Linked DNA regions of Homo sapiens: region 2 is linked to region 1. The links come from fine-mapping of genetic effects on gene expression. Tissue or cell type: whole blood. Region 1 holds a variant in brackets; the other region holds the start of a gene. All regions are shown on one strand. Distances are between the middles of the regions.

Region 1 (2,850 bases):
TCAGTTGCAAGCAACAAAATCCCAGCTGAAACAATCTCAAGCCATGTGGAAATTTATCATCTCACTTTCAAGAAAGTTCGGGTAGATAATAAGGAATTATAACTTTTAAAAAAAGATTCCTCTGTTAATGAACATTTAGACTGTCTCTAACTTTTTCGCCACTTCAAACAATGCTGCTCTAAACATCCATATATAAATATAAATATATAGATATAAATATATATATATATGTCTTTGGGAACTTGAGCTACTATTTTTGTAGGATAAATTATTGAAGTGACATTAATAAATAAGACAGGTTAGGATTTATGTCAGATGGGTCAGTTCACATTTAATCTGTTGTCCTATACCATCTGTATCTAAATCCATCAAATGAGAAGTGATGTTTACAGTGAAGACCATTGTGGATCCCTCATACCTATGGAATCACTTCATGGACATTGTATTATTTTGCATTTTTTCCCACTTATGGCTGGGCAGCAGGCTAAAATAATGCTTAGATGGAAAAGACGTAACATAAAGGGCTTCCTGGTTAACCACCAGATATTTAGAATATTCTATACCCTTGAGTGCCATAGTTAGCAATTTTGTTCAAGAGAGTTTGTGATTCTCTGTTAGAAAGTACAGGATGAAAAGCCTAATAATGCTAAGTGTTGGTGAGAATATGGGGAAGTGGGAACACTTACGTAGAATTTTAAGTGGTGTAACCACTTTGGAAAACAATGTGGCAATATCTAGTAATTTGAAGGTGTGCTTATCATGTGACCTGGTGGTTCTACTTCTATTTTTTTTTCTTTTTATTATACTTGAAGTTCTAGGGTACATGTGCACAATGTGCAGGTTTGTTACACATGTATACATGTACCATGTTGGTGTGCTGCACCCATTAACTCGTCATTTACATTAGGTATATCTCCTAATGCTTTCCCTCCCCCACCCTGCCCCAGTGTGTGTGTGATGTTCCCCTTCCTGTGTCCAAGTGTTCTCATTGTTCAATTCCCACCTATGAGTAAGAACATGCGATGTTTGGTTTTTTGTCCTTGCGATAGTTTGCTGAGAATGATGGTTTCTAGCTTCATCCATGTCCCTACAAAGGACATGAACTCATCCTTTTTTATGGCTGCATAGTATTCCATGGTGTATACGTGCCACATCTTCTTAATCCAGTCTATCATTGATGGACATTTGGGTTGGTTCCAAGTCTTTGCTATTGTGAATAGTGTGTAGTATTTTAGATATTATTTAGAGAGTAGATAGAAATTTATTATTTCCTCCAGATCAGCTGGTTGAACCTTGTTTTCTTTTCTTTTTTTTTTTTTT[C/TC]TTTTTAGGTTCTACTTCTAAGTGTATACCTTAGATTCTAGGGTGTAGAGACTATCTCCCAAGTGCACATGAGAAGACACGTGCAATGATTTTTATTGCTATGTATTTGTAAGACAGACAAATTGGTTTATCAGTCAGAATGGGATAGGTTAAGTTACAGGAACAAACAGCCCCCAAATTCTATTTCTTGCTCATACTGCCTGTCCATTGGAGTCATTAGGGGCTGCTGCTCGTTGTAGGCACTTGAAAACTGAGACTTGCAAAGGCCTAGAGTGCTTCCATGGTCCCTGGGGCATGGGGAGAGAGTGTAGCAGTGTCCGGCAGTGGCAATTAAATGCTTCTGTCCATGAAATATAATTCTGCCATAAAAATGGAATGAAGTGCTGATTCATCCTGCAACCTGGATGAACTTTGAAAACATTATGCTAAGTGAAAGAAGTCAGACACAAAAGGCCACAGGTTGTATGATTATATTCATATGAAATGCCCAGAACAGTTAAATGCATAGAAACAGAAAGTTGGTTAGTTGTTTCCGGGAGCTGGAAGTATTGAGGAATGGAGAATAACTACTAACTGCCATGAGGTTTCTTTTTGGGGTGTTGAAAATGTTCTGGAATTAGATAGTGGTGATGTATTAGTTGCATAATTCTGTGAATATACTAAAAAAACACTGAATTGCACACTTTAATTAGTTAATTAATTAAATTTATTTTTGTAGAGACTGAGTCTTATGATGTTGCCCAGGCTGGTCTTGAATTCCTGGGCTCAAGCAATCCTCCCACACTGGCCTTCCAAAATGCTGGGATTATTGAGCCACCCTGCCCAGCCAAATTGTACACGTTAAAATGGTGACCTTAATAGTATATGAGTTATGCCTCAATTTAAAAAAAATGCTTCTGTCCAAAAATAACACATCCCTTGGCCAAAGAGGTCACCTGGCCACACATACCTTCAGGTTGTTGAGGAAGCACAATTCTACCATGTGCCTGGGAAGGAAAAGAATTGGTATATTCAGTGAACAGCCCTAATGGCTACCACTTGGAACAGTACAAATGCCAATGGTTGGATAAATAAGGTATAGGATATTCACTGATGGAATTCTGTACAGTTAATATGAATAAGATCTGTAAGTGTCAACATGAAAAGATCTCCAAAACAGTATTGAATGAAAAAACAAGAAGTAGAATATTATCTCTGATACCATTTATGTAAATATTATTTATGGAAATATCGATCCATTTATGTAAATTAAAAATTATTCACAAAACAATAGTGTGTAATGTATGGTTACATATGTTTGTAGTAAAAGCATGCAAACACAGACTGGAAGGATGCTTCGCACCTGTCTTGTATTATGACTGTTCCCACCTAAAAATGTAGATCATGTGTTGGTTCTTCTGACCAACTGGGGAAATTCATCCTATTTTTCAATTTATTGCGTATTCTCACCATTGCAAACCCTCATCCTGACTTATTTTTATTTTTTCTTTTAGCCCTAATCCTCAATCCTATCCCTTTTCCTCTTAGCCA
Region 2 (2,500 bases), 86 kb before region 1:
ACACACACTTTCCATTCCAGCGGCTCCAAGTTCCTTCTCTGATAAATAGTTTAGCAATTATCTCTTTGGCCACCACCTGCCTCCCCCGGGAATGGTCTGCCAGGGTGATCTGTACTCCCCTGCCATTTTCCAGAGTCTCTGTAAATTAGGAAGAATTCCTGACGTCTCGGGTAACGTAGCTCTTTATGGGAGTGGAACGTGGCTATCTTTCCTCACTTTAAAATAGAAATTCTGGAGACTAAGCACCATCAAGGTGGCCATGATTTACCAAAATGCCAGCTTTTCAAAGTTCTTAAGTGTACAACCTTCCAGACTGTAGACCGAACAAGGGTAAAGGAGACAAAATGTATTGTCATGATTTTGCACGGCTAGTCTCTGGCAGAGTCAAGACCTCACATTCACTCGAGGGCTCAAATTTAGATATTGACATCTCCAAGTGAAACTAGAGTCCTAAGTGTGTGAGTCAGGTCACTTACCAACTGTAAATGAACATTTAAAATATGCCACAATGCACTCGTGGCACTGCTTACTTTTTATCTGTTTTACATATCAGGAATCAAAAAGAAAAATAGTCTGATCCTGACCCAACCTCTAGGAGGCCCAGGTTCAGGGTCCCGCCACCAGCAGGAGGAGGGGTGAAAGGTGACTAGAAGAGCGGCGTTAGAACTGCAGGAATTTCAAGGTCGCCTCCTAGGCCTCAGCGGTGGAGGCTAGCACGAAGGCGGGGCTGCAGCGCTGCCTGAACCAAAAGTACGCTGCGCTGAGGCGGGGCACGGAACGGGCTGGACTTCGGCTGGATGGGGCCTAGCGGATGGTTGGGCCGCGGCGGGATGGGGCGGGGCTTCGGGCGGGATGGGGCGGGGCTTCGGGCAGGATGGGGCGTGGCCGCGGCGGGATGGGTGGGGTCTGGGTGGGATGAGGCGGGACTTCGGGAGAGATGGGGCGGAGCCGTGGCGAGGCGCTGCAGCAGAAAGGAAATGCGCTGGCGGGGAGACCGGGGTTGGTCCCTGGCGGGGCAGGGGGCGGGCTCAGGCCGGAACTCCAGAGACGACCTCAGCCAACTGCTCCTGCGCCGGGCGGGGTCGTCGCCGCCAGCGGCTCCGAGCGCCGGAAGGGCCAGGTCTCAGGGCTCCTGGAGCTGCAGGCGGCGGGAGGGGCTACAAGTGGGTCCATTTTTTAGTATCTTTTTTCCTCCTTTTCTTGGCTCATCCCCAAAAGCGGAAAGTTTAGGGCAGAGCGACAGTCAGACCCATCCACTATGCCCCAACACGTGCAGGGCTGCGAGGGCGCCCGTTCCTCCCGGGACCCCAAGCGGTTTCTGCTACGCCTGTACAGACGTATCTTCCCAGAGTGAAAGTTGATGTTTAGCCGTTCCGAAGTTGGTGCTTTGTGGGAAGGAGAACAGCGGGAGAGCCGTAAGGAACGCAGGCGTCCTGACGTGAGGAACGCCTCTTAACACGCCCCGTGGCATGGAGTTTGACAGGGCCCTGGATCCCTGCGTTCACCCCTCCTGGAGTCCTGGACGCCCACCTGGGAGCAGCGTCAGGGCCGTGCCACTTTGACCCACGTTAAACGCATTGCATCCTCATTTCTGTGTCCCATCTAGATGCTTGACTCAGTGATGCAGAACCTTTCAGAGTTAGCTGGAAGCCACAGCCCTGCCTCTTGATGCAGCCTGGATCCAGCCGGTGTGAAGAGGAGACCCCTTCCCTCTTGTGGGGTTTGGATCCTGTGTTTCTAGCCTTTGCAAAACTCTACATCAGGGATATCCTGGACATGAAGGAGTCCCGCCAGGTGCCAGGTATGTGGCTAGCCACCCTGGGATGCCCTGGGCTGCATCTGCCACCCTTTCCCAAAGTCTCAGAAAGCTGGGATTAGAGGCTTTTAGGAGAGCCTTCCCTGCTGCAGGCTTTGAAAGGGACCTAGCCTGGACCTTCGCATGAGTTCATTTATTTGCAAGGTAAAAAAAACAGTCTAAATCTTTTTTTTTTTTTTTTTTTTTTTAGTAGGTGTTTGGGGGAGTAACTTTTGTACTGGGGTTTTTACCTCCATTTAGGGTCTTTCATGCTTAAAAATGCTCATTTGTTTTTCTTTGGCCCTGCTCCTGTTGGAGAGATCGCTGGGCCAGATATTCCTAGGCCTGGCTCCTTTCCTAAATGTGCCACTTACCTGGTCCGGGCATGTGACTCACCTTCTGCAAAGTCTGGGTTTCTTTGTAAAAATGGAGCTTAACCCTGTGTAATGGAATCTTTTGATTCCTGATATGTAAAGGGGGTTTGTTTTCTTTTGAATTAAGCAGAATCAAAATATTATAAACTCCCTGAGAGGAAGAACATCATCTGTCTTGTTCACCTTTGTAATCCCAGGGCTTAGAACAGTGCCTGGCATATAGTGGGCCCTCAAATAGAAATAGCAGTTGAAGCAACAAGGCATTATACATGTAAAGTTTAAATTTTCTTTTTTTTTTTTTGTATTAGAATAGTGGCTACTAGAGATAGGC

What was found. PIP is the estimated chance that this variant, and not a neighbour inherited with it, causes the effect.
Region 2: it holds the start of STN1, and the variant in region 1 is fine-mapped to the expression of STN1 in whole blood (INTERVAL, PIP above 0.99).

Annotation. Positions count from the first base shown.
Region 1 is chr10:103,830,841-103,833,690 of GRCh38, reverse strand. The region is part of intron 1 of SH3PXD2A (SH3 and PX domains 2A); the gene reads left to right. Among named protein-coding and RNA genes, the nearest start is that of SH3PXD2A, 23 kb to the left of the region's middle. The variant C/TC (reference allele first, on the strand shown) is at 1,321.
Region 2 is chr10:103,916,763-103,919,262 of GRCh38, reverse strand. It overlaps STN1 (STN1 subunit of CST complex), which reads left to right and starts at 1,079. Exons shown (of 10, transcript NM_024928.5): 1 at 1,079-1,163; 2 at 1,607-1,801. The coding sequence starts at 1,669. RefSeq lists a silencer at 768-1,117 and enhancers at 858-1,152, 783-1,428, 1,288-1,617.